Linked DNA regions of Homo sapiens. The gene in region 5 interacts genetically with the main gene of each other region. Each region holds a gene or a part of one and is shown on either strand. Other genes may lie near its edges. The genes, in order: FLT3LG, ANKRD52, ATP5PF, PIN1, RB1, P4HA1 and EBNA1BP2.

What was found.
Region 1: changes in RB1 (region 5) and FLT3LG together harm fitness more than expected from each alone (negative genetic interaction), as found in Homo sapiens cells (one large-scale study listed by BioGRID).
Region 2: changes in RB1 (region 5) and ANKRD52 together harm fitness more than expected from each alone (negative genetic interaction), as found in Homo sapiens cells (one large-scale study listed by BioGRID).
Region 3: changes in RB1 (region 5) and ATP5PF together harm fitness more than expected from each alone (negative genetic interaction), as found in Homo sapiens cells (one large-scale study listed by BioGRID).
Region 4: changes in RB1 (region 5) and PIN1 together harm fitness more than expected from each alone (negative genetic interaction), as found in Homo sapiens cells (one large-scale study listed by BioGRID).
Region 6: changes in RB1 (region 5) and P4HA1 together harm fitness more than expected from each alone (negative genetic interaction), as found in Homo sapiens cells (one large-scale study listed by BioGRID).
Region 7: changes in RB1 (region 5) and EBNA1BP2 together harm fitness more than expected from each alone (negative genetic interaction), as found in Homo sapiens cells (one large-scale study listed by BioGRID).

What each region holds. Positions count from the first base shown.
Region 1 is NC_000019.10:49,480,715-49,484,214, reverse strand, and holds part of FLT3LG (fms-related tyrosine kinase 3 ligand isoform 1 precursor), read right to left. Parts: intron 2,341-3,500; exon of another isoform or gene 2,338-2,340; coding exon of another isoform or gene 2,337-2,337; exon of another isoform or gene 2,299-2,336; intron 1-2,298. UniProt on the Homo sapiens protein: Stimulates the proliferation of early hematopoietic cells by activating FLT3. Synergizes well with a number of other colony stimulating factors and interleukins. Required for the development of B cells, and dendritic cells (DCs).
Region 2 is NC_000012.12:56,244,885-56,248,384, reverse strand, and holds part of ANKRD52 (serine/threonine-protein phosphatase 6 regulatory ankyrin repeat subunit C), read left to right. Parts: intron 1-160; coding exon 161-362; intron 363-610; coding exon 611-698; intron 699-774; coding exon 775-892; intron 893-2,788; coding exon 2,789-3,008; intron 3,009-3,194; coding exon 3,195-3,282; intron 3,283-3,395; coding exon 3,396-3,479; intron 3,480-3,500. UniProt on the Homo sapiens protein: Putative regulatory subunit of protein phosphatase 6 (PP6) that may be involved in the recognition of phosphoprotein substrates.
Region 3 is NC_000021.9:25,728,405-25,731,904, forward strand, and holds part of ATP5PF (ATP synthase peripheral stalk subunit F6, mitochondrial isoform a precursor), read right to left. Parts: intron 1,398-3,500; coding exon of another isoform or gene 1,391-1,397; coding exon 1,227-1,390; intron 1-1,226. UniProt on the Homo sapiens protein: Subunit F6, of the mitochondrial membrane ATP synthase complex (F(1)F(0) ATP synthase or Complex V) that produces ATP from ADP in the presence of a proton gradient across the membrane which is generated by electron transport complexes of the respiratory chain.
Region 4 is NC_000019.10:9,841,818-9,845,317, forward strand, and holds part of PIN1 (peptidyl-prolyl cis-trans isomerase NIMA-interacting 1), read left to right. Parts: intron 1-3,500. UniProt on the Homo sapiens protein: Peptidyl-prolyl cis/trans isomerase (PPIase) that binds to and isomerizes specific phosphorylated Ser/Thr-Pro (pSer/Thr-Pro) motifs.
Region 5 is NC_000013.11:48,478,251-48,481,750, reverse strand, and holds part of RB1 (retinoblastoma-associated protein), read right to left. Parts: intron 1,773-3,500; coding exon of another isoform or gene 1,754-1,772; coding exon 1,680-1,753; 3' UTR 1-1,679. UniProt on the Homo sapiens protein: Tumor suppressor that is a key regulator of the G1/S transition of the cell cycle. The hypophosphorylated form binds transcription regulators of the E2F family, preventing transcription of E2F-responsive genes.
Region 6 is NC_000010.11:73,090,367-73,093,866, forward strand, and holds part of P4HA1 (prolyl 4-hydroxylase subunit alpha-1 isoform 2 precursor), read right to left. Parts: intron 1-3,500. UniProt on the Homo sapiens protein: Catalyzes the post-translational formation of 4-hydroxyproline in -Xaa-Pro-Gly- sequences in collagens and other proteins.
Region 7 is NC_000001.11:43,163,684-43,166,487, reverse strand, and holds the end of EBNA1BP2 (probable rRNA-processing protein EBP2), read left to right. Parts: intron 1-1,682; coding exon 1,683-1,845; intron 1,846-1,994; coding exon 1,995-2,045; 3' UTR 2,046-2,304; downstream 2,305-2,804. UniProt on the Homo sapiens protein: Required for the processing of the 27S pre-rRNA.

The DNA.
Region 1 (3,500 bases), on a different chromosome or scaffold from region 5:
ATTACCTTTTCTTAAAAAAAAAAAAAAAGATAGGCTGGGCGTGGTGGCTCACGCCTATAATCCCAGCACTTTGGGAGGCTGAGGCGGGCAGATCACGAGGTCAAGAGATCGAGACAATCCTGGCAAACATAGTGAAACCCTACCTCTACTAAAAATACAAAAATTAGCTGGGTGTGGTGGCACGCGCCTGTAGTCCAAGCTACTGGGGAGGCTGAGGCAGGAGAATCACTTGAACCCGGGAGGCGGAGGTTGCAGTGAGCCGAGATCGTGCCACTGCACTCCACCCTGGGCGACAGAGCAATTTAGATACTGGTCTTTGATCTTTTTTTTTTTTTTTTTTTTTTTTTTGAGACAGAGTCTCCCTCTATTGCCCAGGCTGGAGTGCACTAATTATTTTTGTTGTTGTTGGATAGATACCGGTCTTAGCAATCATGATGATTCCCAGAGATAGCAACTGGGATTCTAAACTCTTCTGTGTGGTTTTTTTGTTTTTGAGACAGGGTCTTGCTCTCTCACCCAGGCTGGAGTGCAGTGGCACAATCAGGGCTCACTGCAGCCTCGACCTCCTGGGCTCAAGCAATCCTCCTACTTTGCCTCCTAAGTAGCTGGGACTGCAGGCATGTGCCACCACACCCAGCTACTTTTTAAAATTTTTTGTAGAGATGGGGTTTCACCATGTGGCCCAGGCTGGTTTAATGTATGTTTTGAACAACTTGACTATGTGAGTCTACTTTTGGCAACTGTAAATTTCATGAAATTTAAATATAGATGAAGCATTTCTGATAAAAATTTATTGTCTGGGCTGGGCGCGGTGGCTTACACTTGTAATCCAGCACTTTGGGAGGCTGAGGCGGGCGGATCACGAGGTCAGGGGATGGAGATCATCCTGGCCAACATGGTGAAACCCGGTCTCTACTAAAAGTACAAAAATTAGCTGGGTGTGGTGGCGTAATCCCAGGTACTCGGGAGGCTGAGGCAGGAGAATCGCCTGAACCAGGGAGTCCGAGGTTGCAGTGAGCTGAGATCGCGCCACTGCACTCCAGCCTGGGTGACAGAGCGAGAATCCATCTCAAAAGGAAAAATAAATAAATAAATAAACTATACGTTGGATGCTGAAGGCTTAGTATGACAAAAGAATGTAAAATATCCCAAAATGATGAATGATTCCAACTGATTAATGTCTCATTAATCATTGAGAAATACTGATTACATGTTGAAATAACAACATTTTGGATATACTGCATAAAATAAAGTTACCTGCTTCTTTTTCCTTTTTTAAAAACTGTGACCCCGGGCGCGGTGGCTCACGCCTGTAATCCCAGCACTTTGGGAGGCTGAGGCGGGTGGATCATGAGGTCAGGAGTTCGAGACCAGCCTGACCAACATGGTGAAACCTTGTCTCTACTAAAAACACAAAAAATTAGCCGGGCGTGATGGCGCGTGCCTGTAATCCCAGCTACTCGGTAGACTGAAGCAGGAGAATCGCTTGAACCCGGGAGGTGGAGGTTGCAGTGAGCTGAGATCACACCACTGCACTTCAACCTGGCGACAGAGTGAGACTCCATCTCAGGAAAAAAAAAAAAAAAATGTGGCTACCAGGAAAGTGAAAATCGCACAGGTGGCTCACATGCCGTTTCCACTGCGTTGCTCTAAGAGCCTTGCCTGTGTCACTTCACTTCACCCCATAACAACCCTATGGTGGAAGGACTATTATTAGAGCCTTTTGTACAGATCAGGAAACTGAGGCAGCAGAGTGAAGGGCACAGATGCTGGATCAAGACAAACTCGAGGCCGGGCGTGGTGGCTCATGCCTGTAATCCCAGCACTTTGGGAGGCTGAGGCGGGCGGATCAGCTAAGGTCAGGAGTTCGAGACCAGCCTGGCCAACATGGTGAAACCCCGTCTCTACTACAAATACAAAAATTAGCCGAGTGTGGTGGTGGGTACCTGTAATCCCAGCTACTCCAGAGGCTGAGGCAGGAGAATCACTTGAACCTGGGAGGCGGGGGCTGCAGTGAGCCGAGATCATGCCACTGCACTACAGCCTGGGCGACAGAGCAAGACTCCATCTCAAAAAAAAAAAAAAGACAACCTGAAGTCAAATCTTGGTTGTCACCCTTGAGCTGTGTGACTTTTGGCAAATTATTTACCTCTCTATGCCTTGGGATCATAATGGCACGAACTTCTCAAGGAAGTGAGTTCATTTGTGGAAAGCCCAGCATGGGCCAGGAACAGTGGCTCACACCTGTCATCCCAGCACTTTGGGAGGCTGAGGCGGGCGGATCAGCTGAGATCAGGAGTTTGAGACCAGCCTGGCCAACATGGCGAAACCCCATCTCTACTAAAAATACAAAAAATTAGCCAGGCATGGTGGCGGGCGCCTGTAATCCCAGCTACTTGGGAGGCTGAGGCAGGAGAATTGCTTGAACCTGGGAGGTGGAGGTTGCAGTGAGCCAAGATCCCGCCACTGCACTCCAGCCTGGGTGACAGAGTGAGAGTCCATCTCAAAAAAAAATAAAGCAAGCAAGCCAGCCCCACATGAGGCCTGCATTACCAAGGCACTATATGTGCGAGCAATTACTACAAAATGTTAGATTTGAAATGTTAGGGGACCCGCTGGGGCCTCCCCTCCTTCTTCCCTCCTGGCCCACCTGCCTACCTGCCTGCACCCTCCACACCTGTTCCCAGCTCCTTTCCTCCCTCTCACACCTCCCATGGCTCCTTGCTGCCCCACGCTGGCCCAAGTTACTGGAACACCCTGAGCTTTCTCATACCAAAGGGCTTCCAAAGGCAGTTCCCTCTTTCTGGAATGCCATTTCCTTCCTGTCCCAGGAGGCTTGCAAACTCCCACATCCACAGATCTCCCCAGGGCCCCTTGCTCCTTCAGGTCCCCAGTGAGCTCCATGTCTTTCCCTAATCTGACTCCTCCCCCAGGTTCCCCCCTGTCCACCCCATCACTGGACCAGGGCTATCTGTGCCAACTCAAGCCTGTCAGGCCCCAGGCCGGTCCCTCCTGATCTCTGACCCCTGACTCTCTGCCCATCCACTCCACTCCATCCCATGGTCCCAGCCCTGGCTCAGTCATGGTCCTCACCCTGGGCCTTCCCACAGCCTCCGGCTTGGTCTCCAGTCTGTCTCCGTGGCCCCAGAGGGGTCTTTCCTTTTCTTTTTTTTTTTTTTTTTTGAGACGGAGTCTAGCTCTGTCACTCAGGCTGGAGTCCAGTGGCGCAATCTCGGCTCACTGCAACCTCCGCCTCCTGGGTTCAAGCAATTCTCCTTCCTCAGCCTCCTGAGTAGCTGGGATTACAGGCACACACCACTATGCCCAGTTAATTTTTGTATTTTTAGTAGAGACTGGGGTTTGCCATGTTGGCCAGGCTGGTCTTGAACTCCTGACCTCAAGTGATCCACCCGCCTCGGCCTCCCAAAGTGCTGGGATTACAGGCGTGAGCCACCGCGCCTGGCCCCAGAGGGGTCTTTCTGCACCTAGAGCTGCCCCTG
Region 2 (3,500 bases), on a different chromosome or scaffold from region 5:
AGGGGATAAGCACAGTGCAGGGTAGGAAGCCTTAAGGGGCCCAAGGAGCTTGTCAAGGACTAAGACCTTGAGCTTCCCAGGGACCCCAAGAGCAGAGAAGGGGAAGGGAGGAGCAGGGAAGGTCCCGAGCTGTGTGCACTGGTTGCCTGCACCTTGCCAGGCCTACAACGGTCACTGTGAAGCCTTGAAGACGCTGGCGGAGACGCTGGTGAATCTGGACGTAAGGGACCACAAGGGCCGGACCGCACTCTTCCTGGCCACGGAGCGCGGCTCTACTGAGTGTGTGGAGGTGCTTACAGCCCACGGCGCCTCTGCCCTCATCAAGGAGCGCAAGCGCAAGTGGACACCCCTGCACGCTGCTGGTTAGTGCCCACTTTAGGCTGCTGCCCTACCCTTGCCATGCCAGATCCCTCCTGGATGGGAATGGGGCTGGAAAGTGGAGTAGGGTGAGGAGAATGGAGACTTCAAGCCCTGATTCATAGCTTCCTATCCTCAGAGATTTCTCCCTGGCCCAGGTCTTTCTGTAACATTGACCCCAAGTCCTTTAGGCTTGACCTTGCCTCCCTTCTTCCTCCTGGCCCTGCCCTGACACGGGGTCCCTTTCCCCTAGCTGCCTCTGGCCACACTGACTCCCTGCACTTGCTGATCGACAGTGGGGAACGAGCTGACATCACAGATGTCATGGATGCCTATGGACAGTGAGTGTGGGCCAGGGTGGGGTGCAGGTTTTCCAGTCCTTGCGGGATCCTCACTCCTCCTCCTGCCCTTCTGTAGGACCCCACTGATGCTGGCCATCATGAATGGCCATGTGGACTGTGTACATCTGCTGCTAGAGAAAGGATCCACAGCTGATGCTGCTGACCTCCGGGGCCGCACTGCCCTCCACCGCGGGGTGAGTGAGCTTCTAGGGGGGATTGTTTGCACATGGGCCTCAGTGTGGGAGCATGGGACTCACCAGCAGTAGGGAATCCAATTGTCTAGGAGGCAAGCCAGGATTTTGTGCCGTCTTTTTTCTTTTTCTTTTTTTTTTTTTTTTTTGAGACAGGGTCTCACTCCCATTGCCCAGGTTGGAGTGCAGTGACACTATCACAGCTCACTGCAGCCTTGACTTCCTGGGCTCAGGTGATTCTCGCACCTCAGCCTCCTAAGTAGCTGAAACTGTAGGCACATGCCATCATGCCCAGCTAATTTTTGTATTTTTTGTAGATATGGGGGTCTTACCATCTTGCCCAAGCTGGTCTTGAACTCCTGGGTTCAAGTGATCCCCCCACCTTGGCCTCCCGAAGTGCTGGGATTACAGGCATGAGCCACCAGACCCACGCTGTGCCCAGGATTTTATTGAGCTTTGTGCTTGCTCCAGGATGAGTTCCTGACGTCCCCAGCTGATTTCCCTGATATCTGTGCTTTGTTTATTATTATTATTATTATTATTATTATTATTATTATTATTATTATTATTATTATTGAGATAGAGTCTCGCTCTGTCACCCAGGCTGGAGTGCAGTGGCGTGATCTCGGCTCACTGCAACCTCCGCCTCCTGGGTTCAAGCAATTCTCCTGCCTCAGCCTCCCGAGTAGCTGGGATTACAGGCGCCTGCCACCACGCCTGGCTAATTTTTGTATTTTTAGTAGAGACAGGGTTTCACCGTGTTAGCCAGGGTAGTCTCAATCTCCTGATGATGAGATCCACCCGCCTTGGCCTCCCAAAGGGTTGGGATTACAGGCGTGAGCCACTGTGCCTGGCCAATATCTGTGCTTTGTAATCACGTACAACTGAGTGCTCACCACCCAGACTCTACCTGGGATACCCTGCTGGCCCCAACCCATCGCATAATGTCGCCACAACCTAGATCCTCTTCCGTGACCACCTGTCCTAAGCTGCCTCCTCCTCCCATAAGATTTTTTGATCCCTTAGTCTCCTTCTCTCCATTTAGTCTTTCCAGTATTAACTCCAGAGCTCCAGTATTAACTCTTAGTATCCTGATTGTCTGCTGGCATAGAGAGAGTCAAGGAGGGAGATGTGGGTCCCTAATACTTAGAATTGTTGTTGTAAAGGGCCGGGCATGGTGGCTCACGTCTGTAATCCCAGCACTTTGGAAGGCCAAGGCGGGCAGATCACCTGAAGTCAGGAGTTTGAGACCAGCCTGGCCAACATGGTGAAACTTCGCCTCTACTAAAAATACAAAAATTAATTGGGCATGGTGGTGCATGCCTATAATCCCAGCTACTTGGGAGGCTGAGACAGGAGAATTGCTGGAACCTGGGAGGCAGAGGTTGCAGTGAGCCAAGATCGCACCATTGCACTCCAGCCTGGGTGACAGAGTGAGACTCCGTCTCAAAAAAAGAAAGAATTATTGTTGTAAAGACAAGGATTGAGGCCAGTGGCTCATGCCTGTAATCCCAGCACTTTGGGAGGCCGAGGCAGGCGGATCACGAGGTGAGGAGATCAAGACCATCCTGGCTAACGTGGTGAAACCCTGTCTCTACTAAAAATACAAAAAAATTGGCCGGGCATGGTGGCACCTGCCTGTAATCCCAGCTACTTGGGAGGCTGAGGCAGGAGAATCGCTTGAACCGGGGAGGCAGAGGTTGCAGTGAGCCGAGATTATGCCACTGCACTCCAGCCTGGGCGACAGAGCAAGACTCCGACTCCAAAAAAAAAAAAAAAAAAAAAAAGACAAGGATTGGAGCCCTGGAAGTGGTTCTTACTCCTGAGCCAGACTCCAGCAACAGGCCAGTGGAAAAGGAGGAGCTTTTCATCCCCCTCACACCCCCATGTTACTCACAGGCAGTGACTGGCTGTGAGGACTGCCTGGCTGCCCTGCTGGACCACGACGCATTTGTGCTGTGCCGAGACTTTAAGGGCCGCACGCCCATTCACCTGGCCTCAGCCTGTGGCCACACTGCAGTACTGCGGACCCTGCTGCAGGCTGCCCTTTCCACAGATCCCCTGGATGCCGGGGTGGATTACAGCGGATACTCGCCCATGCACTGGGCCTCCTACACTGGTACTAGACTGGGGCCTCCACAGGCACAGGAGCATGTGTTGGAGTGTGTGTAGAGGGGGACAGGTGGGTTGTTGGGGGGGACCTGGGTTGATCTGAATCTGGAAGTGGAATGGAGTGTCAAGACACAGGACAGACAGGGAACCTTGCCGTTTTTCTCCATCACTACTCTTCCTTCCTCGTGCCCAGGACATGAAGATTGTCTGGAGTTGTTACTTGAACACAGCCCGTTTTCGTACCTGGAAGGAAACCCCTTCACTCCTTTGCACTGTGCAGTGTAAGTCCCTTCTGCTGCATCAGCCCTTCTCGCGAGGGCCCATGACTTGAGCTTAGGACAGGTAGTCTACTTCCCTTGTCCTTCCTGATGACCCCTCCTCCCTCTTCCTCTAGGATTAATAACCAAGACAGCACCACAGAGATGCTACTGGGAGCTCTGGGTGCCAAGATTGTGAACAGCCGAGATGCCAAAGGACGGTGAGTGATGGAAGACTTGGG
Region 3 (3,500 bases), on a different chromosome or scaffold from region 5:
CCATTCACCAAATATATTTTGTGCTTTCTAGCACAAACTAAGGCATTTTCATGCCTTAGTTCACACCATTCTTTCCTCCTAAAAGATACTCTCCTCTTACCCTCATTTATCTGTCCAACCTTCATACACTGATCTTTAAAACCTAGAGTAAACCCCTGGGTGTACAGGTCTACTGAAGGCCTCCTGTGGGTTTGAGAACTGTTTCATGCTATAAGGAAAATGATGTGAGTAAATTCTTCACGTTTTTTTCTTTAAACTGGGAAGATGATCCACAGTTGTCCATGAGATTCTCAAGAGGGATGAGTACCCAAACACTGCCTTCCAAGAAGCCTCTAAAATGCCTCTAGCTGGAAAGGAGTATTCTTTCCTATGAACTCCCCAAGCACCCAGCGTTTCCCTACCTTAGCACCTAACTCATTTTACCTTATATTGTATTTATTTGCTTAGAAGCTTTCTACTCCTATCGGACTTTAAGAATATTGTAAAAATGCCCTGTGGCCCATCACGGTTAATAGCCAAGTGCTTTACACACAGTAGACAACTATATGAAAGAAAATGGAACTATGAATTGGTGCGCCTCACTGTTCCTAAGATTTGGGTTTGGACCTGATGACAGCTAAGGTGGTCATTCCTTTCCAAAACTATGGTTCTACAATTGTTTTTCTTGGACTTACATTATGTCATTTCAGAGTCTTTTGTCCTTTAATATACATTCTCAGAGATCTGTAACTATGGAAATAGCCTTTTAAAAAAAAGAGCTGTGTTTATACATTTCCCCCAAATTACAATGTCACAGAAAGGCCACTAAATTGAGGCTAAAATATACTTTGATAATATATTTTTCCCCAATTAGTTTTATGATCTTCGGCTAATCAATGTCTAAGGGAGTTACTTTTTTCAAACTTAGCTGCTAAATGATTTCCAAGACCCTATGTATTTCTATAAATTGATGTGGTTTATAATACATGACATGACAGTAAGAATGTATTTTAAACAGCAATAAATTTAGTAGGATTTTCCCTTGTAACTCATATAAAGATACAGTTTCTGACTTAAAAAAATCAAGATCCTTATCTTCTTTTTTGAGGGCACCTAATGAACCTCTATGTCAGAGATGAGCTCAGTGAAGGTCTAATACTTTCAAATACCAAGTCATTTTTATTACCACCTTGAAACTTACATACTTTGAATATTTATATTTACACTGTAGTTATTTATTCACTTACTGTCGCTTAGATTTGTATTCTCTAATCTTGTCCACAAAGAGTTTCTGTATAGGATCAAGTTCCTTATTAAATGCCACTGCTGTAACACCAATGTTCCTCCGCAAATGGACTGAGACGGCTGACCGAATGACAGAGGAGAACCTGAAGAGCCTCTGAAGAATCATGCTGATTCTGTTACAGAAAACAAGCAGCAGAAACGTTAATATACTTATTATAAATCACCTCTAAATATATCATGAGAATCAAATTCTACTAATTGCTACAGAATTACATCATATCAGATCTCAGTCTATACCTGACCACAGTTCCCTTCTCCTCCTTATTCCCCATTGCAAGTTTTTTAGGTCTTAACCAAAAGGCTCTGGGATAATGGAACAGTTAGAAACTCAGGCCTGAAGCTTCATCAGGGTTAGAGCACAAAATGTGAGGTGAGGTATTTCTTCCCCCTTGAACTTAGTCATGGATCAGAGAAAACAGTAGAGGTAGACTGTTGCAACACTGTCCGCTCCTAACAGGAAAAGTACACTGGCCCCCAAACTAATGTACAAGGTTTCCCATACCTCAGCCGGGCATGACAACCTGAAAATGTGTACTTCACAGGCCCACAGAGGGAGAAACTGCTCTGCCTGTTACAAATGGATTCCAGCCATTTAAGAATACTGTAACAACTAAATCAAAGTCCAGAAGAACCAGCAAAGAAAAACAGCAGCCAGTCCAAATGAGCTGTGCATGACAGTGGGGAGGATCCGGCAGTCCAACTTTATCAGTGAAATAAATTGGTGAAGGAGATGGAAGTCTGAATTTTAAAAATAAGGACTTATGGCCAGGTGCAGTGGTTCACGCCTGTAATCCCAGCACTTTGGGAGGCTGAGGCTGGTGGATCACCTGAGGTTGGGAATTTGAGACCAGCCTGACCAACAAAAAGAAACCCTGTCTCTATTAAAAATACAAAAATTAGCTGGGCGTGGTGGCGCATGCCTGTAATCCCAGCTACTCAGGAGGCTGAGGCAGGAGAATTGCTTGAACCCAGGAGGCAGAGGATGCAGTGAGCCGAGATTGTGCCATTGCACTCCAGCCTGGGCAACAAGAGCAAGACTCCGTCTCACAAAAAAAAAAAAAAAAAAAAAAAAAAAAAAAAAAAAAAAGACTTAAAGACTTTCAAATCCCTAGACTTCCTTAAGCTAAAATATATTACTTTCTAACTAAAACATTTCAGTAGAGGACAATTCCTGTTGAGATTTACTTTAGTGATTTAAAGATCAAATGCAAAAAATAATCCAAATTACAACAAATAGGTACAAACAGGAATTCTAGAAGAAAAGGAATAAAGAGGGCCAGGCACGGTGGCTCATGTGTGTAATCCCAGCACTTCAGCCCGAGGCAGGTGGATCACTTGAGGTCAGAGGTTCGAGACCAGCCTGCCCAAAATGGTGAAACCCTGTCTCCACTAAACATACAAAAATAAGTCAGGCGTGCTAGCGCGTGCCTGTAATCCCAGTTATTTGGGAGGCTGAGGCAGGAGAATCACTTGAACTCAGGAGGCGGAGGCTGCAGTGAGCCCAGATCACACCACTGCACTCCAGCCTGGATGCAGGGCAAGACTCTGTCTCAAAAAGAAAAAAAAGGAAATGATTAAAAGAGACCATAAATAATTAGTAGAATACATTTTTCTCAGATTAAGGCCGAGTCTATAAACTGACAGGGCTTGCCAAACCCCATATTGGAACGGTGACAAAAGGCTCACAATGCACCACAGCCTGGTACAATTTCTCAATCTTTTTTTTTTTCAGACAGGGTCTCACTCTGTTGCCCAGAATGAACACGGCTCACTACAGCCTCAGCCTCCTGGACTCATGCAATCCTCCCACCTTAGCCTCCCAAGTAGATGGGAGCACAGTTGTGTGCCATCACACCAGGCTAATTTTTACTTTTTTTTTTTTTTTGTAGAGACGAGGTCTTGCCATATTGCCCTGGCTGGTAAAATTTCTGAATCTTCAAGTGAAAATCTGATATGCTAACATGTTTCCCATGCCCTCCCCAAATTTCCTAATAGCAATACTGTCATCATCACATTGACACCGGACTTCTACTAAGTTATAATAGGACTAGTGGAAGTATACAAACTATGTTATTGGTCTAAAGTAATATAGAAATTAGATATAAGTATTTAGAGGCCAGGCGAGGTGGCTCATGCCTGTAATCCCAGCACTTTGGGAGGCCGAGGAGGGAGGATTGTTTGAACTCAGGAGTTCAAGACCAGCCTGGGAAACATGG
Region 4 (3,500 bases), on a different chromosome or scaffold from region 5:
TATAAGAGTGAGCAGGAGGGTGCAGGCATTTGGGGATGGAGCGGCATGAAGTGGGCTCCTGGGGGTCAGCAGAGCAGCCAGGCGCAGGACAGAGCTGCTCCAAGCAATCCTGATGAGAGCTGGCAGAAGGCTGAGGTCGGTGGGGATAGTGAGGAGGGCATGGGTCTGGGTGTGGTGGGCGAGGGTGTCTCGCCCATCTCTGGGTTGGACAGGTGCACCTGGTAAGTAGCCAGGCCCTGAGGCGTCACCGTAGGTACCTGCAGATTCTGGAATGTCAGCAGGAGCCTTGCCTGCCCACCTGGTGGAAGCTGTGGGAGGAATTGGAGCAAGAGGCGGTGTGACTTGAACTTGGGGGCTGGAAGTGGAAGAAGAAGTGAGAGGGAGCAGACCCGAGAGAGATTCAGGAGGCAGGATAGAGAGGACTGGGTGATGGATTAGGTGGGCAAGGGTGGGATGTCTGGGGGAGGGTCAGGGCAGAACAGCGTGGCCCACCCTGGGCTCGTACAGGGCTGGATTTCAGTGCCAGCTGTGTGGTCTTCATTTCCTGAGCCTCAGTTGCCTCATCTGTAGAATGGGGAGAGGGTGGCTATGAGGATCCAGGAGCTATGGGCTCAGTGGCTGGCGTGCTCTGCACGGTGGAGCCTCAGCCCCAGTCATTGGGGTGTGGACGATGGGGGAGCTGAGGTCAAGTCAAGGCCTCTGCTCACGGGCAGCCCCTGCTGCCACCCCACAGCCCGTAGAAAGAGTTCCGGATAGGACCACAGGAGGCCTGGTGGGCTCAGCACACAGATGATGACCTTGGCACACGACCTCCCTCTCCTGGTATCCTCCTGCCTGAGACGGTGCTGGGGCAGATCTCCTCAGAGGTCGATAGGAGGATGCAGTGAGGTGGCCCCGGCCGAGGTACACTCGGTAACAGATCATCATGTGCAGTGTCGGCGCAGGCATTGGGCACCTGGGCCTCATTTTCTCTTCCATGAAGTGGATGTTCTCCCCTCGAGGGTTCATGCCGGGTGATCAGGAGACCATGATTTGGGCAGCTCACTCCCCAGCTGGCAGCCGGGCTAAATCTCATCAGTGCCCATTTAGATCTGGTGCTCCGCCCTTGCCCCGAAGGGACAGGCTGCCTGCAGAGAGAGCCGGGACCTCCACATTTTCTGCTGAGGCTCCTTTTCCCAGCATTGGCTCCTCTGCAGCTGCTGGGCCACAGCCAGAGGCTGTCAGAGATCCAAGGGAGTCATTGCCAGTGTCCTTGTCTAAGGAGGATGGGCCATGGAGAAGCCCTCCCTGCCCGCTCTCCACCCAGATCTGTTGACAGCCACCCCTCACATGCCCAGGGCCTGGAGGGTCCCAGCAAGGCTGAGACTATGAGCAGCTGTCCTACTCACATACCCATCCCAGCATCCAGGTCAGCCCCTTTGTCCTGGGGTCCTCAAGGTCACTGGCGCCCTTCCAGCCTGCTGGCCTTGGGCCAGCCTCTAGCCCCTCCTTCTGGATCTTGGTCTTCTCAGATCTGACCCTGTCACCTCTTTCCCCGACCAGGCCCCTTCCCCTCTGGTGCCTGGGCAGCCTGGGGGAAGTATGCTGGAAGCAGCGTAATGATCTGGCAAGGCAGAGGAGACAGCACGTCTTGAAACATTTTTGGGGTCAAGGACTACCCCATTTGTTCCCTCACTCCCACCTAGGTCACTGATGTGCATTAGCTTGGACTGTTGTAACAAAATATCACAGACAGTGTGGCTTAAACAACAGTCATCACTTTCCACAGTTCTGGAGGCCAGAAGTCCACAATCCAGGTTCCCTCAGATTCTGTTCCTGGCGAGAACCCACTTCCTGGCTTGTAGACGGCTGCCCTCTCACTGTGCACTCACATGGCATTCCCCAGGCGCATGTGCACGGAGTGAAGGAGCACGAGCTCTCTGGTGTCTCTTATAAGGACACTAATCCTGGCCAGGCGCAGTGGCTCATGCCTGTAATCCCAGCACTTTGGGAGACTGAGGTGGGTGGATCACCTGAGGTCAGGAATTCAAGACCAGCCTGGCCAACATGGTAAAACTCCATCTCTACTAAAAATACTAAAAAAAAAGCCAGATGTAGTGGCGCACACCTGTGATCCCAGCTACTCAGGAGGCTGAGGCAGGAGGATCGCTGGAACCTGGGAGGCAGAGGTCACAGTGAGCCGAGATTGTACCACTGCACTCCAGCCTGGGTGACAGAGCCAGATTCTGCCTCAAAAAAAAAAGGGGCGCTAATCCTGTTGGATCAGGGCCCCACCCTTATGACCTCATTTAACCCTAGTTACTTCCCCAAAGTCCCCATCTCCAGATGCAGCCACACTGGAGGTTAGGGCTTTAACACATGAATTTGGGGTGACACAAACATTGAGTCCATAACGGATGGGCAGCTTGGATCTGTCAGGGGCCTGCTCTGCAACAGCCACTGCTTAAGCGGTCACTGATTCACTCCTTGGAACAGGCTCCAACGTGGGAGCAGCGGTTACCCCATTTTACAGGCCAGTTGAGTGAGGCTCCAAGAGGTAAAGTCACCTGCCAGACTCTCATTGTTCAGGAGCAGCAGAGGTAGGATCTGGACCTGATGGAGTCTGGAGTCAGCACCCATAACATGTCCTCCTGGACCTTGGGGATACACTGTGAGCAGGCTGGCTGGGGTCTGCCAGCACAGATAGGTGCCATTCTGTTTTGCATACTATTTCAGGGGGTCCTGAACACCTTGAAGCAGGTGGAGGCCCCTGCTCCAGACTGGGAGCTCCTGGAGAGGCCACCCTGTGTCTGTGTGGTTCTAAGCTGGAGCCACATCGAATCAGGATGGGGCTCCAGCACCCGACAGTCCCCATCAAATTTCACAGGTTTTGGCGCCGTCGGGCAAGGCTGACACATTGTCTTGGAGGAGGCCCAGGAAGTCTGGCCTTAGGGTCGCAGCCTGAGTTTCAGGCAGATAGGGCATGAGATTCCAGCATTTCTGCTTCGAGCCCCGTGGTAGATCCCTGTCTCCCTCCTTCCCCATGGCCTATTTCTGTCTCATTTATTCATTAACTTCTTGAACATTCGTGAACACCTGTTTTGTGCACAGTGCTGGGTTCTGAGGGTGCAGCAATGAAGAAGGCCAACCCAGCAGCCTCCATTCCTGCACTGTGAGGCGGGCAAGCAACACACCAATGGGACGGTAGTAAATGCAGCACCCAGGGGGAGGCACCTAACACAGTGGGGGATTAGGGGAGGCTTCTTGGGGAGACCAGAGGATAGCTGATGAGTTTCAGGCAGGACAAGAGGCTTAAACCAAGGTCTGCGAGGTGGGAGTCGGAGGATGTCATTGTCGCGGGGTCAGGTACAGGCTGAGCTAACAAGACACACAGGACCAAACCCCTCAAGGTCAGCCTCACAGAGCAGGAACTCAGGAAGAAAGCGTTTTTGTTTGTTTGTTTGTTTGTTTGTTTGTTTGTTTGAAATGGAGTTTCGCTCTTGTTGCCCACGCTGGAGTGC
Region 5 (3,500 bases):
AATCTCAATACACGATCTCTGAAGTTCCTAAAATTCTGGCACTAATTCTAATGTGAACTTAGTAGCAAAAGACCCAGAAATAGTAAGCCCTTGACCTAAAAACTAACTGATTTGTATGATATTCATGCAGAAACAATGATGAAATGGAGTCAAGTTTTCTAGTGTCATTGTTATCAAAATAACTGTCAAAATAGTAAGTTTGAAACTTAAATGAGCACAAAATAAAATTTTGTTTTCTAACAAGACCAGATTTCTTTTTAAAAATAATTCTGAGTTAGACAAAGTGATTTTCCTAAAAGCTAGCTGAAGCTACCTTAAATATCCCCTATTTTAAGTTACAGCATCTCTAAATAAGTTAATCACACAAGATAGTTTAAATACACCTTTAGGTGTAGGGGAGGGGAGAAGCGCCTCTTTTTCTAATGCAGCTGTTTTAATTTGAAGCTTTTGCACAAAATCAGATAGAAACATTAATGCCTAACCCATAATGACCCTTGATTACTTGTAATTTTGGACTAGAAATAATGTGGCTTTGAACATGCCAGTGTTAGACCATACTGACTTAAAAAAATAAAAGATAAATAGACAATTGCCAGTTCAAAAGATACATGGAAGACATGTACCATTCCAGAGAAAACACAAACCTTCCCAAATTAAGGAGGGCAGAATAATTTTGAGATGCAATTAGACAAATCTCTATGAAAAAAAAATTAAGGCTCCTATAATTAACAGTCTGTTTATGGAGTAAAATTAATTTGTATCTTAATTCTTCAGGACCCAGAAACATTAGAAAGTGCACTTGGGATATACTGTGTTAGGGTCCTCTATACCTAAGATCTGGCAGAACACTTTACTTTTTCAAGTACTAGATGGGTACTTTATAAATTCAGTGATCTGAATGGTATAAAAACCAAGAGTACTATCAATAATCCTCATTTAAAAACATAAGTTGGATGAAGAAAATAATCAGTAAGTTCTTTTACATTCTGAGGTATGAAATCTGTTTCAGTAGTATGATAGTATCATATGGTTATACTTTGCTTCCAGCTTTTATTTAATTAAAAGCAAAATTTTATAAAACAAGCACACAGTATATCAGATTCCAATAGTAAAATAAAATCTAATGTGTAAAATTAGTAATTTTTTTCTAATTTCTAATAATATCCATTTTTGCAGAAGAGTTCAGGATAATTTTGGTGAATGGGCAGTCAATCAAATTGCATTTGGAAGATAGATAGGACACATTTTCTAAGGGTGTTCATGTTAAATTAAAAAAATATACATATAAATTAATAAAAACAAGAGCAAACATCACCTATATGCTACAAAAGAAGGCAAAGTAGTCAGACAGGCCTGGGTTATCAGGACTCCCACTCTAGGGCCATTCTTACTATCCATAAAGCACAGCAATTTTACTTTGGAAGAGGAAACAATCTGCTACAACTTTTTAAATGGCAGGATTTACACAAGATTTTCAATCTTGTATAAATAACAATGACTAACATTTCAAGTGGCTTAGGAATCACCCAAACAATTGCATCTGCACATTTTATATCCACAAAAAGAGCTGAAGATATTAAATGTGGCCATAAACAGAACCTGGGAAAGTTATACAGTCACATCTGTGAGAGACAATGAATCCAGAGGTGTACACAGTGTCCACCAAGGTCCTGAGATCCTCATTTCTCTTCCTTGTTTGAGGTATCCATGCTATCATTCATTTTCTGCTTTTGCATTCGTGTTCGAGTAGAAGCTGGAAAAAGGATGAAGAACTGTTAACAGCATTGATGGTACTGGGTAAGTTGGCAAGTGGCTGCCATATATATTATGCTCATGTCAAACTGATGGCGCTCAGGACCTTGCAAAAGCAGTGGTCTTCATTCTAGTATTTGACAGTACCGTAGGGAGTTACAGTTAATTTACTGCATATTTCAAAATAGCTAGAATTGTAATGTTCCCAATGCAAAGAAAAATGTTTGAGGTGATATATATCCCAATAACCCTGATTTGATCATTACACATTGTGTACACGTATCAAAACATCACATGTACCCCTAAAATATGTATAACTATGATATATCAATTAAAAAAAAAATTCCCTCCCCACCCCCCAAAAAAACAGTGGTCTCCAAATCTTTAAAAATCATATATCCCTGTGAGTAAATTTTTTTCCAAGCCTGTACCACAAAAATACGTATGTATGTACAAATTATAAAACACATACCCCAAGCAAACATTAAAATGAGATAAATAGAACTTCTACTTTATGTACCCCAAAAGATGACTTTGCATACTTCAGGTATGCCCCATTTTGTAGGCCACTATTCTAGAGATGAGGTGGTTGATGCTTGGCATATACTTCAGCAGACTAGAATACTCGGCTGGCCCAGACTGAATCTGCCAGAGTGAGTGGTGGTATTCTTTACAAAGCTATAGGTTCCCTTATGTTTGCAGATGCCTTGCAGGTACTGCAAATACATCAAATCATAGCTCATTTAAACTGGGCATGGATTTTTTTTTTTTGAGACAAGGTCTTGCTCTGTTGCCCAAGCTGGAGTGCAGTGGCATGATCATGGCTCACTACAGCTTTGACCTTCTGGGCTCAAGCAATTCTCTCACCTCAGCCTCTCCAGTAGCCAAGACTACAGGCACATGCCACCAGGCCTGGCTAATTTTTGGATTTTTTTGTAAAGATGGGGTCTTGCTATGTTGCCCAGGCTGGTCTTGAACTCCTGGCCTCAAGCAATCCTCTCACCTTGCCCTCCCATAGTGCTGGTATTACAGACATAAGCCATCATGCCTACCCGGGGCATGGCCATGTTAAAAGCATATTATGAATTACAATATAGACAAAGCCGGGATACTTATTAAATTTCTTAAAAATTCTTAACTTGATTTTAGAGGTAGGCATGAGTTCTTTATAAAGAAGCACATTTGGAAAAATGGAATGCCCTTCCATTCTGGGCAATCCAGCATTGTATGATGATCTTTTCTAAATGTAATTCTTTAAGAAAAGCTGAAGAGCATCCTAAAGAAATGCCTTAGCCTCAGGGGTTAAAATTCTGCCTGCTTTGTCACAATTTTGTAGATGCACAAAGGTCCTGAACTTTGGCCTGGCAGAGGAAGCTCGCCATCATAGCTAAGTGTGTCACTGGGAAATGTACTAACTATAGCAACTGAACACTTCTCTAAGAAAATATACATGTTTTTACAGCTTTCAGCTCCTTTTTAAGTGCATATTTGTGGGTTCCAAAATGTTTCCATATGTCTTCAAGGCCTGATTTTGGTTATGAGCCTCTTGTCTATTTTCATGTACTGAGGGGAAAAGATGCAACTATTTAAGAGTTAAAATAGGAATATGTAAGTTGACATAAAATCCAAAAAGAGATTCATTTATAACTAGAAAATTTTGTTTTAGTTATTTAGTTTTAATTACACTTTAAAAAAATACATAGAAAAAAAGCATCCTTTTAAATATCTTATTTTCAAAGTTAGTATCT
Region 6 (3,500 bases), on a different chromosome or scaffold from region 5:
CAAGCAGTCCTCCTGCCTCGGCCACCCAAAGGGTTGGGATTACAGGCCTAAGCCACTGTGCCTGACCTTGAGGATACTCTTGAAGGTGATGGATATGTTCCTTATCTTGATTGTACTGATATTTTTTTAAGTAGATATTTTTGTCAAATTTATCAAATTGTACACTGTAAATATATGCAATTTGTCCTGTCAATTTTGCTCAATAAAGTCGTTAAAATATATCAGTTTATTCAATTTATTAGTAATCACCCTTATATCAAAGATTAGTGTTTTACTTATTACTATCACTCTACTTGGTGGCAATGGTCACTATTCACTATTTTCAAATACAATATTAAGGTTTTTTAAATTCAGGCATAGTAAATTGAGGTCTATTTTCAAAATATCTTTGAGGTTAAAGGAAGTAACTGCAGGCCAGGTGCGGTGGCTCATGCCTGTAATCCCAGCACTTTGGGAGGCCGAGGCTGATGGATCACCCCCGGTCAGGAGTTCGAGACCCGCCCGGCCAAGATGGTGACACCCTGTCTCTACTAAAAATACAAAAAAGTAGTCGGGCGTGGTGGCGGGTGCCTGTAATCCCAGCTACTCGGGAGGCTGAGGCAGAGAATTGCTTGAACCCAGGAGGCAGAGGTTGCCGTGAACCGAGATTGCGCCACTGCACTCCAGCCTGGGTGACAGAGTGAGAGTCCATCTCAAAAAAAAAAAAAAAAAAAAAAAAGAAGTAACTAAATTTTGAAATCATGTAAATTTGAGAATGTCTTCATGTAACCTTTGACTATGAATATGTTGCCTGAGTTTACCAAAAAAATAAATAAATAAATAAATAAATAAATAAAAAGGAGGAAGGTTGTCAGAACCATAGGGCAAGAACAAAGGTCACACACACAAGTAACATTTTGAGGTCCTAAATTCAACCAGTAGGTTTTAGAAATACCAACTTTTTTTGTTTTTTTGAGACAGGGTCTGGCTCTGTCACCCAGGCTGGAGTGGAGTGGAACAATCAGAGCTCACAGCAGCCTTGAACTCCTGGGCTCCAGAGATCTTCCCACCTCAGCCTCCCAAAGCACTGGGATTACAGATGTGAGCCACCACGCCTAGACTAAAATAAACATTTCTTGATCATATTTTTGGAGAAATTAGATATGCAAATCTAGTTAATATAAGATTAGAACTGTAAGAGAAGTCTTGAGCCTACTTAAAATCAGTTAATCAATATTTAATTTATTGTTGCAGACACATGTAACAGGATATCTGATGCTTCATACACTGTTCAATGCCTTTTAATTTTATGACTTGTATGATAGTTCTCGGCTATTCATTCTTGGGTTTTACTGAAGTTCCAAAAATCAAAGAGCTTTGATTCTTGTAATGGAAATATCTAGAGAAACTTGTGTTTAACTGACTCGGCAGAGATGAAGGCCAAATTCTCATATGTACCTATAACATTACTCAAATACTATTCTTAGTACAAAAAAGTTAAATATACTCTTATCTCTGAACATGAGCTATTCAGACCAAGGCCACTCAGGTCAGAGTAGAATACTCAAAAGCTGGCTTTAGCAGTCCCTTTCCTCCTAAAAAATGGATTATTGCTCTGAGGCCCAGGTATACTCAGCTTCATCCCTCCCAAGGCTATTCTGTCAAAATTCCACTTTTATTTCCACCCAGTCTACCTCTTTCTAGTCTTCAATTATCTGTTTACTCTAATGCCAGATCCAAATTTCTCAAGTTGAGGTAAAGAGAGACAAAATAAGACCATGTATACTAGAACAGGGAAAAATGAATTCATGGTTGTAGAGGATGTGAATCTAGATATGCATTTCCATTCAGTGCTACAGATTTAATATCTAGTAAAATGTTAGCCACATGGTGCTATATCATGTAATTTTTATGTCCTACTTCTCCTATGAAACATTTCTCATCATTCTTGATTTTCCTACAGTCTACTGGCCATATTGTAAATAATTTTTTTTTCTTTTCTTTTTTTTTTTTTTTTTTTTAGAGACAGGGTCTTGCACTCTCACCCAGGCTAGAGTGCAATGGTGCTATCATAGCTCACTGCAGCTTCCAACTCTTGGGCTCAAGCGACCCTCCCACCTCAGCCTCCCAAGTAGTTAGACTACAGATGCATGCAACCTCATGCCCCCTTAATTAAAAAAAAATTTTTTTTGTAGAGAGATGGGGTCTCACTATGCTGACCAGGCTGGTCTTGAACTCCTGGCCTCAAGTGATCCTCCTGCCTCGGCCTTCCAAAGTGCTGTGATTACAGGTGTGAGCCACCATGCCTGGGCAACATAGTAAGGCCCTGTCTCTAAAAAAAAAAAAATTTAAATATAAATTTAAAAATTAAAAAATTGGTTAAAGTTTACTGTAATTATACAGGTTGATAAAATAAACCACTAAATTACAGTCCTCTCTTTGCACTACTTATAATGGAGAAACAGCTCAAGTGTCCAACAAGAGAGTAAGGATGACCAGGCATGGTGGCTCACACCTATAATCCCAACACTTTGTGGGGCAGATGGGAGAATCACTTGAGGCCAGGAGTTCGAGACTAGCCTGGTCAACAGAGCAAGATCCCATCTCTACAAAAAATTAAAAAATTAGCTAGACATGGTGGCATGCATCTGTACCCCGAGCTACACCCGGAGGCTGAGGCAGAAGGATTGCTTGAGCCCAGGAGTTCAAGGCTGCAGTGAGCTATGGTCACACCACTGCACTCCATCCTGGGCAACAGAGCAAGATCCTATCTCTTAAAAAAAAAAAAAAAAGAGAGAGTAAGGCTGAGTGTACTAATTCCACATAATATTACTATTTAAGAAAGAAATGAGTAATATGGACACATTTTTATGAAACACTAAACATGAGGAAGAGAAAGGCCCAATATAGAACTCATTCACTGATGACAACTAGGTAAGAAGTCTGAATCTCTATAATGTATTTTTAGCAAATGTCAAATCAAATATACTAACAGTCATACTGATCATCCAAAGGAAGACCAGGAAAAAGAATGTTTTTCACCACACCGAGTTTAAAAACTGCTGGAGTAACCTAAATGAGAGTCCTTTTGAATTGCCAAAGCTTTTCTTTAGGTACAATACTTATTCAACTAGAGAAACTGAAGCTGTCCTAATGACAGGACAGCTTCAATTTATACAAATAAATTTTCTTGAATAGAAACACAAAGCTTTGGCCGGGCACGGTGGCGTGATCACACCTGTAATCCCAGCACTTTGGGAGGCCAAGGCGGGCAGATCACGAGGTAAAGAGATCGAGACCATCCTGGTTAACACGGTGTAACCCCGTCTCTACTAAAAATACAAAAAATTAGCTGGGCGTGATGGTGGGCGGCTGTAGTCCCAGCTACTCGGGAGGCTTAGGCAGGAGAATGGCGTGAACCCGGGAGGTGGAGCTTGCAGTGGGCCGAGATTGCACCACTGCACTCCAGCCTGGGTGGCAGAGTGAAACTCCATCTCAAAAAAAAAAAAAAAAAAAAAAAA
Region 7 (2,804 bases), on a different chromosome or scaffold from region 5:
ACAGGTGCCTGCCATCACACCCAGCTAATTTTTGTATTTGTAGTAGAGACAGGGTTTCACCATGTTGGCCAGGCTGGTTGTGAACTCCTGGCCTCAAGTGATTCACTCACCTCAGCCTCCCAAAGTGCTGGGATTATAGGTGTGAACCACTGCACCCATCCTAAGAAGGTACTTTTAAGTATGTGGCACCCTTTAAGTGAATGCTGAGTAAAGTTGATTCCCCATCACACAGTGCGATGGTTGAGAGTTCAGACCTAGGGTTCAGATCCCGACTCTACCACTCAGTAGGAGGGCAGTTTTGAACGAGTTACCATGCCTTTCTAAATGCTAATTGCCTCATCTGCTAAGTTGAGGAAATAGTGTCTGCCTCATAGTATGAAGACTGAAAGAGAGAATGTGGGCTCTCATTGTTTTTTCTAGTCTGCTTTTTTGCATACCTGGATACCAGGCCTAGGGGAAATGATAATTTCCATGTAAGATAGTAAGTGCTATGATAGAGGCATTTGGGGATTAGTACTGAGTCAGCTTTTATAAATACCTGACAGGGTCTGGGGTGGATTTCTGGAGGAGCGTTCGACTTGAGCATTGCTTGAAGCATGAGTAGGAATTAACCACGAGAATAGAAGAGAAGCTGGGTTTGGGAAGAAGTAAGAGCTTGAACGAGCAAAGCCATCGAGATGTGAAACCTCAGGGTTTTGTGAGGAACAGTAAGCCCTTGGTGTCACTGGGAATACAGTGCAAAGCAAGGAGGGGTGCAATGTGTTTGGGGGGACCTGGGCTGTGGGTTTGCCTTGTTGAGGAGCTTGGGCTTTGTCAGAAGGCAGTGGAGAGACTAGGTTGTAGGTTGTACTAACAGTAATGAGCAGGTTATATTCATGTTTTTAAAAAGATCACAGTGGATTTTGTATAAGTGACAGACTTGAGGGAAGCTGGGAAATTGACAAGGGTACTATTGCAAAAGTCGAGATAAGGATTGAAGAAACATTTAAGAGGTGAAATGAGCAGGACTCAGTAATTGAATTGGGTATAAAGAGTGAGAGAAGAACCAAGGCTGACTCCCACATGTTTAGCCTGTGTGTCTGGGTTGGTGGGAGCAGCGCCAGCCTCAAGTGAGGGCATATGTACAGGAAGCAGAGCCAGTCCAGGAGATGATGTGAATTTGGAGATGCTGAATTCAAGATTCCTATTGGATGACCAGTTTTACATTTGAATGTTATTCCATTTGAATGTTATTTGAATGCCTATAATTACATTTGAATGTTTACATTTGAACGTATTCATTACATTACATTTGAATGTTACAAATGTAACATATTACATTTGGATGTTAACTGCATGTATTTACCCTTGAGAGGAATAGACACAACTGAGGGTGATTTAATAAGATTTGGTTAAAATAGAAAGCTTTCTAAAGACAGCAGGAAGCCATGTAATATATGTAGAGCCTTCCCTGCTTCTTGCTTTATTTTCCTGCCCTGGTGGTCAAAACTGTAAATAGGTGAGCTAGATGAGTTTGTCTAGAGAGGCTGTAGCATAGGATTGTGGGGCCAAGGATGAGATTCTGGGTTACAGACGTGCCTAAGGGGCTTTGCTTATAGAAAGGAAACTGAGAGCATTGCTGGGCCATCAGGTTCATCAGGCTTTACAGTGCTGTAGTGATGTCTAGGACCATTCTTTTCCAGGCCCAGTGCTAAACGACGGTATAAAAACCAGAAGTTTGGTTTTGGTGGAAAGAAGAAAGGCTCAAAGTGGAACACTCGGGAGAGCTATGATGATGTATCTAGCTTCCGGGCCAAGACAGCTCATGGCAGAGGCCTCAAGAGGCCTGGCAAGAAAGGGTCAAATGTAAGTGAGCCCAGGTGCCCGGGTGAGGAGCAGGCTCAGCCTCCCCTCCCACTCCCAACCCTGCCCTCTCCCTTCAGTTCTGTTCGTCCTCACCCTGGGGCAGAAGGCAAGCTGCTATGTGACCAGATGTGGTATGTCTTTTTCTGTAGAAGAGACCTGGAAAACGAACAAGAGAGAAGATGAAGAACAGAACACACTAAATAGCATCTTTGAATACAAAGAACCAAGAAAAAGGAATGAAGACTCGCAATTTCACGACACACTTTGATCCCTTCTGTTGGTGTCATGTTGTAAACATTTCTTTCAATAAACTAAAGAAAAATTATTAAAGGAACACATACCTTTGGTTAAATAGTCTAGACTAAAAGATTGAGAAGTTACTTTCCATTGCTATCTATTGATAATTTAGACATTGAGTTCAAATTGCCTTCATTTTATGATAAATAATGATTTAACTGACACCTTCTCATTTCCTTTGTCTCATCCTTCTAAATAGTTATATTACGATCAATCCCTGTAAAGCTCAATGCCCATATTTTACAGGTGTGAGCCACCGTGATTTTCTTTGTGGTACAGCTTTTGGTTTTTCCTCCAGTTAACCTTCACCTTACATTCTTCTGCTTGCCTAATTTTCCTTCTATATTCTTAGTTCTTTCCAGATGCTTTGTCATTTTACCCACTTTATAATTTTTCTCCTACAACCTAGTTATGCCACACAACTGTCACCTTTTTTCTAGACCGTTTAAGTTGGCACCATTATTTCCAGAATCCCATGTTTTCCCATCTTAGCATATGCCTTCTTTTGCTGTGTACCATTTTTTGGTATCTTACTAAGAAAGGGAAGATGAGAGGTAAACTTTTTATCTCCTTGCATTTCTGAAATTGCCTTTAATTTGGGCTGATAGGAATTTCCTCCTTAGAATTTTAGAATTTCGCAGGCACTGTTTTTAAGTTTTATT